Homo sapiens: one gene and its partners. The protein of the gene in region 1 purifies or fractionates together with the protein of each later gene. This does not show direct contact. Each region holds a gene or a part of one and is shown in the gene's direction. Other genes may lie near its edges. The genes, in order: ASB14, POTEF and PGAM5.

Evidence for each region.
Region 2: the proteins of ASB14 (region 1) and POTEF purify together in Homo sapiens (affinity purification with mass spectrometry; 2 studies listed by BioGRID and IntAct, with this or other methods). This does not show direct contact.
Region 3: the proteins of ASB14 (region 1) and PGAM5 purify together in Homo sapiens (affinity purification with mass spectrometry, with the first as the bait; one large-scale study listed by BioGRID). This does not show direct contact.

What each region holds. Positions count from the first base shown.
Region 1 is NC_000003.12:57,279,163-57,282,809, reverse strand, and holds part of ASB14 (ankyrin repeat and SOCS box protein 14), read left to right. Parts: intron 1-2,336; coding exon 2,337-2,508; intron 2,509-3,647. UniProt on the Homo sapiens protein: May be a substrate-recognition component of a SCF-like ECS (Elongin-Cullin-SOCS-box protein) E3 ubiquitin-protein ligase complex which mediates the ubiquitination and subsequent proteasomal degradation of target proteins.
Region 2 is NC_000002.12:130,127,090-130,130,836, reverse strand, and holds the start of POTEF (POTE ankyrin domain family member F), read left to right. Parts: upstream 1-1,614; 5' UTR 1,615-1,765; intron 1,766-2,972; 5' UTR 2,973-3,128; intron 3,129-3,747.
Region 3 is NC_000012.12:132,717,264-132,720,910, forward strand, and holds part of PGAM5 (serine/threonine-protein phosphatase PGAM5, mitochondrial), read left to right. Parts: intron 1-175; coding exon 176-301; intron 302-446; coding exon 447-535; intron 536-723; coding exon 724-857; intron 858-1,498; coding exon of another isoform or gene 1,499-1,547; exon of another isoform or gene 1,548-1,904; intron 1,905-3,414; coding exon 3,415-3,565; 3' UTR 3,566-3,647. UniProt on the Homo sapiens protein: Mitochondrial serine/threonine phosphatase that dephosphorylates various substrates and thus plays a role in different biological processes including cellular senescence or mitophagy. Modulates cellular senescence by regulating mitochondrial dynamics.

The sequences.
Region 1 (3,647 bases):
ATGGCTTTAGATGTTAGGAAATTATTCCTGATTTCTTCTCTTTGGGTCCCAGTTTTTCACTCTAGTAATAACCAAAACTCCAAGGGAAGGGGAAAGCAACTTAAACTTATTGGGTACTATCTAAGCAAAAGCATTAAACTACCCATGTTGCCTCATAACCCTTTAAAAACTCTGTGAGGTAGGTATTATCCTAATTTTATACTTGAGGAAAGTGAGGGTCAGCCATGGTACCAGCTGCAGGACTTCCCTTCAAACATGCCCCCTCCCCTATCCCCAGCTCTGTAGCTGTGGGCATTTTGAATCCTGGCTTAACTAGCAGGGACCCTTGGCTCAGAGAACTTTGGCCTTTACTGTCTTCGAGGAGAGCTCATTGATGACACTGTTAGATGAAGCAAGGTAGGATCAATCTAAAGCTTTTTTTCAAAAAAGCAAATTTTTACCAAGATTTTTAAAAGTCTCAATAATAGAATTATCTTTATTCTCCTCCCTGTCTAGAAGTATTATTTTGTTCTTTAACAATACACAGTCCTGGTCTCCAGTATTCTAGATGGCAGAGACTCATATTTAAAAACAACCTTGTGCTTTTTAGACATTATCTAAATCTTTCCTGTCATATAGGGGAGGCTAGTTGCTAATCAATGGCCATAAGACATTTTAAGTAAGATGTTTTAAATGATCAATATAAGAAATGTCTAAAGTCATTAGCTGGAATAACAAAAATAAACATTGGAATCTTTCATCTACGAGGAAAGAGTAACCTTTTGTATAGATCATTGATTAAAATACAGAGAAAGAAGCAACAGATGTTAAATCCTTTACCCTGCAAAGAAACCAGTATCAGTTGACCTCAGTGAGTAAGCATTTCCTTTAAGTGACTCCTTACAAAGTAATTTGCACCAAGTGACACAGATGGTACATCACAGAGCCAGTATTTCAAGGTTCATCTGATTCCAAATCACATTATCACCCTGCATTGCTAGAGTGGCAACATGGCATCATAGATATAAGCCCTGGGTCTAGAATAACTGTATATGAATCCTGACTACCTTGCTTACTAGGTGTGCATCTTTGGGGAAGTCACTGAAACTCAATGAGTTTCTTCATCTTTAAAATGAGTATGTTAAGCACCTACTGCTGGGGGTTGTTACAAAGTTTAAAAATTATTATACACATAATGGAACCAGCACATAGTGGGCACTCAATAAGCAGAGGCTTATTGGACTTCTAAGGCATTCTTGGAATGGGGTTCTTGGGCAGCCACTGGACCCTGATGACTCTTATGGAGTCTGTGTTAAATTAAAGTCACTACATCTTTTTTATATGAGCTTCAGAATGCTCTCCGTAACTTTTGTCCATTCAAATGCTACTCTTTCTTCAGAGCCCATTTTACTGGGAACACTTCCACAACTGACCCAAACTCTTTTCTCCTTCCTTCACCTCCCAGCTCCCCTTACAACCCCAGCCCCCCTTACAACCCCAGCCCTAGATCTTCTAGAAGACCTTTTGCCTGTCCCTGTACTCTTATTATTCACATCACTCACATAACACTTAACATACAGGGTGTAAGTTAAGCATTCTTAATCTGAAAATCTGAAATCCAGAATCTTCCAAAATCTGAAACTTTTTGAACATCAACATGATGCTCAAAAGAAATTCCTACTGGAGCATTTCAGATTTCGGATTTCTGGATTTGGGACTTGTAAGTATAATGCAACTTGTAAGTGTAGTGCAAATATTTTTTTTAAAAACCCTGAAATATGAAACACTTCTGGTCCCAAGCATTTTGGATAAGGGATACTCTGTACTAATAACTACAACAACTTACCTCTTTGGCTATTGGCAGTTCCTAACCTCAATTAAAAACAGTTACAGTGTCTCCTACTATGGTCCCCTACGAACAAGCTAAAACAGAACAAATGCCCTTTTCCACCAAAACAGTATCATTAGATGGCATGGTATTATAGTTTGATAGATTTGTTAGTACCATCCTATATGTGTGTTATGAGTTAAGTGGGCTTTTATAGGCTGGTCTAGAAATAAAAGCAACTTTTATAACAGTATTTCTACTGGAATTTTCAAGTTCCAAACAAATGGACATCAAATTACTTCAAAAACTAACCTACTTATAATTTAGAAACTGCCATTTTTTTCTTCCCCAACTAGTTTATAAGTTACTTGAGAGCAGGAGGTATATATTCTGTTACTTTGATTCTTGGTGCTTTGCTAGAGTGCGTGCTCACTAATTGCTTTTTGGTGATGGGGATATATTTTTAAGATTGCTCAAGAAATACAGTGGAAAATAATTTTTGCATTAACAAGAGTCTTTCTCCTCTTAGGAGCTAATGCTCATGGTCAGGCCTCTGATTCTTCTTCCATCTTACTTGAAGCCGCAAGTGGAGGAAATCCAGATGCTGTGGCTCTCTTGCTGGAGTATGGAGCTGATGCCAACATCCCTAAGAATTCAGGCCACCTGCCCATCCATGTGGCAGCTGACAGGGGCCACTTACTGTTAAGTTCAATTACATTATTATAAATAATAAAAACAGTAATAGCTACCTTTTATTTTGTGCTGCTTCTAGGAACTTTATAATCTTTAATCACTGATCCCACAATCTAAACATACTTTTTTTTTTTTTTTTTTTTTTTGAGATGCTGTCTCCCTCTGTCGCCAGGTGCTGGGTCTGAACCATAGACCCTGGCCAAGTGACAGATGAAAGTACTTAGACATAGGTATCCAGTGAAAGAGTGGGCTAGGGGACCAGGCTGCTCAAAGAAAGAGTTGTAGCAGCCATGGCCCTGACAAGCTGGTGCTTCAGGCATTTATTTAGTACAGGTTTAATGACAAAGGCTTTGAGTCAGCACATCGTGTGAGTAATTAACACGGTTCCCCCCCAACCCCCGCTGCCAGAACAGTCCTACATGTGGATGATTAAAGGCCAGTTCTGAGGCCTAAGTAAACTAACTTATCTAGATCAATTCCCTTACACTTCCTTGTAACCTACTCTGAGAGAATTCAGCTGCCTTCAGCCAAATCCTTTCCTGAAGCTTTTGCAAAACCTCCCGGCCTTCCAAGAAGGTGTGCTTCTTTCTATAATTTTAATAATATTTCCCACCACGCTGACTGAACTCCTGCAGCCAGGCTGGAGTGCAGTGGCATGATCTCGGCTGACCGCAACCTCCGCCTCCCGGGTTCAAGCAATTCTCCTGCCTCAGCCTCCTGAGTAGCTGGGACTACAGGTGGGCACCACCACACCAGCTAATTTTTGTATTTTTAGTAGAGATGGGGTTTCACCATGTTGGCCAGGATGGTCTCAATCTCTTAACCTCGTGATCCGCCCTCCTCGGCCTCCCAAAGTGCTGGGATTACAGGCTTGAGCCACCACCCCCAGCCCTAAACATACCTTTTAAAGATGAGAAACTCTTAGGAGAATTGCTTGAACCCAGGAGGCAGAGGTTGCAGTGAGCCAAGATTGCGCCACTGCACTCCAGCTTGGGCAACAAGAGGAAACTCCGTCTCAAAAAAAAAAAAAAAAAAAAAAAAAAAAGAAAAACTCTTGACCAACTAGGAAGAACTAGAAATGGCTGTTTAACCAGGCATCCTCTGAAGCCACCGAAGAGATATAAAACTTTTTTCTCAGGTACTTAGA
Region 2 (3,747 bases), on another chromosome or scaffold:
TTTTCCCCATCCACTTACCCACTTTCCCCACTGTTTTTCCCACCGTCTTTTCCCTTTCTCCCTGGCCACCTTCTTTTCCCCCATCCCACTCTCATCACCCTCTTTTGCTCCTTCATCTAAGCAAAAACATTTTCTCCCGTCTTTTCCCAAACCCTTCTCCTCACTCCTGCTGCTCACCACTTTTTCGCCCTTCATCTACCCGAAAACTGTTTTCCTCATCGTCTTTTCCCCCGCTCCTCCTTGCCACCCTCTTTCCCTTCTCTACCCAAAAACATTTCACCATAGTCTTTTCGCAAAGCCTTCTCCCCACTCCTGCTCACCTCCCCTTTTCCCCCTCCATCCACCCCCCAGAATATTCCCTACTGTCTTTTCACAGTCTTCCCCCCTTCCCACTCGTCCTCTTCTTTGCCCTATCCTGCTTGCCACTCTCTTTTTTGCCTTCCATCTACCCCAAACTATTTTCCCATTTTTTTCCCAACTCTCTTTCCCTGCTCCCTCTCGTCACCCTCTTTCCTCCTCCTCGTTACCCTCTTTCCCCCCACCATCTACCCAAACACTTTTTACCCACTGTCTTTTCTTTCTCCACCGTCTTTCTTTCCTGCCCACTATCTTTTTGCAAAACCTTGTCTTCCTCCCGCTGGCTACCCTTTTCCCTTCCCCCACCTGTTACCCTCTTTTCCCCCTCTATCTACCCAAAACCTTTTCTCCCCACTGTCTTTTCACAAAACCTTCTCTCCCTACTGCTCAACGCTGTTTCTCCCCCCCACCACCCTCTCTTTCCTCCTCCCTTGCCACCCTCTTTTCCTCCTCCATCTACCCATAAACATTTTACCCACCATCTTTCTGCAAAACCTTCCCTCCCTCCCGCTCCCCACCCCGTTTTTCTCCCTCCATCTACCCAAAAACTTTTTTTCCCACTATCTTTTCCCCACCGCCTTTTTGCAACGCGCTCTCCTGCTCACTATCCTCTTTTCCCTTTGGCACTAACCACCCTCTTTACCCCCTCCATCTATCCCAAAACTCTTTTCCTCCTCTTACCGCTTCCGCCGCACTGCCGTCTCGGTCGCGGTTACCACCAGTCGCAGCGAGGCGAGCCACGGTGTAGCGGCTCCAGCCTCCAGCGTACGGCTGGTGATTACCCATTCCTGGTCCTCTAAGCCGGGCACTGAGCAGCTCCACAGGAAAATACGGGAACGTGGAAGAGCCTGACTTCCCTTCAGCAGCAGTCATATACCGAGATTATATACAGGAGGATTCCTGACTGCATGTTCTGATTGGATGAGAAAAACCCTCCAGGGTTACTTGGATTGGACTTTATTATCATGTTCTGATTGGATGAGAGCCAGTCTTAAGACAACCAATCACAGCATGAAAATAAAGTCCAATCAGAGTAGGCCTAGAGGTTTTTCTCTCATCCAATCAGAACATGTAGTCTGGGAACCACATGTGCGTAACCTCAGTAGGTAAAGCATGCGGAGGTGGCGTCAGGTCATTTCAGGCTCTTAAGTGTGGGCGTTTGGTATCCGGCATGGCTGCTACCTGTTTCTGGCTGGAGCCTCGGACACTGGCTCACTGCAGTTGGTGGTGTCGACAGTGGTAGGAGGGCAACCAGTAGCGGGAGCTTCTCCTGCCAGGCAGGAAGACGAGTAGAAGGGAGCGGCATGCTGGAGGCTGGAGCCTGAGCCCCTGGGGCTCGCCTTGCTGTGTTTGGTGGTGACGTGGGACACTGCAGCTCGGCCAGAGTGGTAGAAATGTCCTGGTGTAGGTGAGTTATCCGGGGATGTACTGCCCGCCTGTGGGGGCAGGGGTTGGGTGTCCTATTGGGGCTCACTACCCGAGGCTGCACTGCCTGTGTCAGGGGGCTGGTTGGGGGCACTCTCCGAGGTTGCATTGCTGGCGGTGGAGGGGGGCGGTTTTGGCTGGCTGTCCGGGGCTACACTGCCCGTGGTGGCGGGGGTGATGGGGGGGAGGCAGGTTGTGTGCACTAACGTGTACTGCCGGTGGCGGGGGAGGGGTTAGGGGCACTATTTTCTGCTGCACTGCCCGGGGCAGGGAGTGGTTTTGGTGGTTATTTGGAGCTACAATGCTGGCAGCGGGGGGTGGTTTAGGAGTGTTGTCGGGTGCTGCACTGCCCTTACTCAGGGTGCGCTATCAGGAGCTGCGCTACCTGTGGTGGGGTGGGGGCGGCGATTTTGAGGCATTGTCTTGTGCAGCAACACCTGTGGCTGGGTCAGGTTGTGGGCACTATCGGGTGCTACACTGCCTGTGGAGGGGGTGGTTGGGGGGGGTATTGGGGTTACACTGCCTGCAACTGGCACAGGGTGTGGTGGGTGTGCTGTCCGGGGGCTACACTGCCGGCGGCAGGGGTCAGGTTAGGGTTGCTATGGGGGCTATACTGCCAGTGGTGTTGGTCGGCTGCAGAGGTGGTGGGGACAGCAACAGCCATGGTCTCCTTGCTCCTTCGGGTGACTCTTCTCTTTTCCAGACTCCAGAGTTCCTCCTGGTGCAATCTTGAGCAGGGCAGGGCCCCCACACCCACTGCGGTTCTCCGGCCTGCACCTCCCGCCCACACCCCATGCTCTGTGTTGGGGAGACCACCTGGGACTACCGGGTGGGGATTAGTGGGCATCGCGGGGGACTGTGGGAACAGGGCACTGTGGGTGGAGGTGTCAGGAATGGGAACCAGCAGTTGAGTGGGGAGGGCTGGCTGGGTCTGAGTTTCTCCTACTCCTGCTCCCCAAGGAGTGCAGCCCTGGTGGGCCCAGCAATTTCTGGCCAGTTGCACCTGGATGGGGGTGGTTTCAGCATAGGCACTCACACCCGCCCCAGTTCCTGGCCACCTTTTGCCAGAAAGAGAGGCTGGACTTCGGTGGGTGGGTCTGAGTGCCTTAGCTGAAGCTGGTCCCTGCCACCCAGTGGCCAGCATGACAAGGTGAGGCTCTAACGTTACCACTCCCTGCATCCCATTCTAGGCTTTTCTGGCTTTGCCCGTCTAGCTGCTCCAAGCCAGGCTGGAGGAGGAGGAGAAGGAATCACCTGTGGTACGCTGGAGCCTGCATGTGGCGTGACTCTGCAGCTCGCCTCGTGTGACTGATGGCAGCCACGGAGACTGCAGCTCGACAGGAGTGGTAGGAGGGTGCCCGCGGGGGCAAGGTGGTAGGAACCTTGTAGGGTGGGCTGCTGCATTGATGGCGACAGCAATTGTATTGGCATTGGTGCTAGTGGTGGTAGTGGCAGAAAGTCTGGGGACTGGGAAGGGGGAGTAGGAGCACTGCAGGGCCCAGTCCGACCTGGGGTGGGGACGAACCTGCTGGTGCTGTACCATGGGCCTCGGTGGCAGTGGTGGAGGTGCACTTAGGGAAAGGAGTCCTCCCCCTTCTCTTGCAATCTCTGGAGGGTGGCCTCCTTCTGAGCCAGGCATGAGTGGCAGCATTGTCTCATTCTTAACAAAATTTAGGGGGTGACTGTGTGTGTGTGTGTGTGGCTTTTTTTTTTTTTTTTTTTTTTTTTTTGAGACAGAGTCTCGCTCTTTTGCCCAGGCTGGAGTGCCGTGGTGTGATCTCGGCTCACTGCAAGCTCTGCTTCCTGGGTTCACACCATCCTCCTGCCTCAGCCTCCCTAGTAGCTGGGACTACAGGCGCCTGCCACCACGCCCAGCCAATTTTATTTTTGTATTTTTAGTAGAGATGGGGTTTCACAGTGTTAGCCAGGATGGTCTAGATCACCTGACCTCATGATCCACCCACC
Region 3 (3,647 bases), on another chromosome or scaffold:
TGCTGAGCTTGCTGCCTGATCAGGGGTCGTGTTTGCGGGCGGAGGAGGGGGTGTTTGCGGGCGGAGGAGGGGGTGTTTGAGGGTGGAGGAGGGCGTGTTTGCGGGCGGAGGAGGGGGTGTTTGAGGGTGGAGGAGGGGGTGCAGGTGCGGCACTCAGGTGCCTTTCACCTTCCAGGTCGGGAGCAGGCTGAACTCACTGGGCTCCGCCTGGCAAGCTTGGGGTTGAAGTTTAATAAAATCGTCCATTCGTCTATGACGCGCGCCATAGAGACCACCGATATCATCAGCCGGCACCTGCCAGGTGAGTGCTGCGCGCGGGGCCTCCATGCTTGCAGCAGTGGGCGGCTCGTGGCAGGGCCCCGGCCTGAGCTCCTGGCCACCGGGAGGTCACAGCATCTCCGCCGGCGGGGCCGCCTCACCCAGCGCTTCGCTGTGCTTCTCTGCAGGCGTCTGCAAAGTCAGCACAGATCTGCTGCGGGAAGGCGCCCCCATCGAGCCAGACCCGCCCGTGTCTCATTGGAAGCCGGAAGCTGTGGTAAAAACCTCCCCGGGGGGCAGCTGTGTCACCCTCGCCTTCCCTGGGCAAAGCGGCCCTGCTGGGCTCACCATCCACCACGTGCCCGGCCGTCCCACGGGCTTCCCCGGGCGGCGATGGGGTCTGTCCTCCTGACACCCGCCCTGCCCGAGCACTTCCGCACTGACGGCTCCTCACTCTGCCCCCAGCAGTATTACGAAGACGGAGCCCGGATCGAGGCCGCCTTCCGGAACTACATCCACCGCGCAGATGCCAGGCAGGAGGAGGACAGTTACGAGATCTTCATCTGTCACGCCAACGTCATCCGCTACATCGTGTGCAGGTAGGCAGCTGCTGGGCTGGGCGTGGTCTAAAATAATTTCAGACTTAGAGAAAAGCATGAGGAAGAAGCCGAGCGAGACCCTCCTCCACTGCCGATGCCACCCTAGTCAGGCCTCACCAGCCCCCGGGCGTCCACTTCCCGCGAGTCCTAGTCAGTTACGCGGTAGGTGGCGTGTTACTTGGAGCTTCTCATAAGGCTGTTTTGGGCAAGGGTGGTGCAGACAGGGAGGGACCCCTGTGGTGTCCTGGGTGGGGTGCGTGCTGGGTGGGGGGTCCTGAGTGGGGTGCGTGCTGGGTGGGGGTGTCCTGGGTGGGGTGTGTGCTGGGTGGGGGGTCCTGGGTGGGGTGCGTGCTGGGTGGGGGTGTCCTGGGTGGGGTGCGTGCTGGGTGGGGGTGTCCTGGGTGGGGTGCGTGCTGGGTGGGGGTGTCCTGGGTGGGGTGCGTGCTGGGTGGGGGGTCCTGGGTGGGGTGCGTGCTGGGTGGGGGTGTCCTGGGTGGGGTGCGTGCTGGGTGGGGGGTCCTGGGTACGGTGCATGCTGGGCGTCCGCACTGCCCTGGTTGTTTTCCCTTTGTAATTGAACGTCCTGTTTCCCCTCAAACTCGACCAACCACCTTCTGCCTCCGGCTGGATCCCACTGGCAGCATCCCGCCGCTGTTGTCCGCTGGGGATTTTGTGCTTCTGGGGTCCTGACCTCTTTCACTTGCTGATCTGTGGGCGCTCCCACCCGTGTGCCAGCGTGACGGCTCGGGGTGTCCGCTCCCCTCTGGGTCGAGGCCACAGCTGAGTCACGTTGCTGCTCGGGCTGCTCCCTCGGGGGGCCCTTGTCCCTCAACCTGCTCTGGTGCCCCACTCTCAGCACCACAGAATGATCCGGGTTCAGGTTGCGTTTTCCCTGCCACCACCCTGCAATCAGCCACTTCTTTAAGGAGCTCCAGGGCTGCAGCCACGTTAGAGGGCCCCTTGGGGGGCAGGGCCAGCTCTACGGTTACATGCCTGAAACAGTCAGAAGGGTTGGCCAAATCTCACTAAATGCAAATTTGAAACAAATTTGCCTCTTCTCTGGATCCATTAGGAAATGTGTGTGTGGGCTCCGCAGCTGAGGGGGCCCTCTTGAGTGTGACGAGTCCTGTGGTGGGAGGACAGGACGGCACTGGTCAGTGATGCCGTGTGAGGCTGGGCCCTGGTCTCTGCCCGTCTGTCACCTGGGCCTGTCACCAGGGCTGGGGCTGCTGGGAGCACCATGGTCAAGAGCAGCAGCTCCCAGAAAGTCGAGGATGTACGGGCCGAGATTCTCAAGCTTGGCTCCAGACCAGATAGAGCTTTTCTGGGGGTTGGAGCCTCCGGGTGGTGTGGCCTCAGGCTAAGTGAGTACCTGTTTGCTGTGAGTCGTTCGTTGCCTCCTGTCTGTGCTTGTGAATGAGCCATATGGGTGGCTTCTATGCTGCCACCACCACCTTGTGTGTCCATGACACAGTCACCCCGAGGTGACACAAATGCTAAAAATGCACAGAAATAACCGGGGCGGGAGAGTGGAGCCGACCTGAGTCCACACAGTGGTGAGGGCCAGGCACGTGCACCTGGACACGAGAATATGGCTGTGCTGTTCCGGCCGGTGCCGCCAGGCAGCCCTGAGGAGGCTCGGGAAGCAGCGTGAGGGTGGCCATGCGGCCCACTGAGACAGGGCGGTGGGTGGCTCAGAGGCGATGAAGGCAACTCCGAGCTTTTCCGCAAATGCGAATTGTGCCTAAGAAGTGCATGAAGATGCCACGGCGGGTAGATCCCATCTCCGTTCTTTGCTTTCCCAGAAAGGGACCTGTTGCACTAACTGGCTGCTCCCTGCTTTTATATGGGAAAAGCAGAAATTAAACTGTGTTTCCTCGTAAGAAGTCAGCGTTGTTCTGATCTGTGCAAATCTTGAGTTGGGGTTGGGCCCCTGTCCTAAAGAGGGCAGGTCCCCAAGTGTGATGGCTCCATTCATGTCGATCCCAGTCATCGATTCACGTCGATCCCAGCCAGATCTTCCCCGAGAAGCCCCGACTGAAGACAGGAGCGGCTCGGCTGATGTGTACCCCGGCCCTGAGGCTGCTCTGAGACTTCTGAGGGGCTCAGCCTCTGTTTGTAGAACAGAGCCCCCTGGCACAGCCTGGCCCAGCCTCTTTTAAGGACAGAGTCCCCTGGCTCTAGCCCAGCCCGTTTTTTTTTTTTTAGACAGAATCTCGCTCTGTCACCCAGGCTGGAGTGCAGTGGCGCGATCTCAGCTCACTGCAAGCTCCGCCTCCCGGGTTCACGCCATTCTTCTGCCTCAGCCTCCCAAGTAGCTGGGACTACAGGTGCCTGCTATCACGCCCAGCTAATTTTTTGTATTTTTAGTAGAGATGGGGTTTCACCGTGTTAGCTGGGATGGTCTCGATCTCCTGACCTTGTGATCCACCCGCCTGGCCTCCCAAAGTGCTGGGATTACAGGTGTGAGCCACCATGCCCGGCCTAGCTCAGCCCGTTTTAAGGACAGAGCCCCCTGGCTCTAACGTGCTCTTTCTCTCTCTCTCTCTCTCCCCAGAGCACTGCAGTTTCCTCCTGAAGGCTGGCTCCGGCTCTCCCTCAATAATGGCAGCATCACCCACCTGGTGATCCGACCCAACGGCCGAGTTGCGCTCAGGACCCTCGGGGACACGGGGTTCATGCCTCCCGACAAGATCACTCGATCCTGAGGGCTCCGGCCTCTCCTTCCCTCTGTCCTCCCTGCACAGGCCGCACACACTTAACGTTTTGTTCCCAAGGAGACCGGCGGAA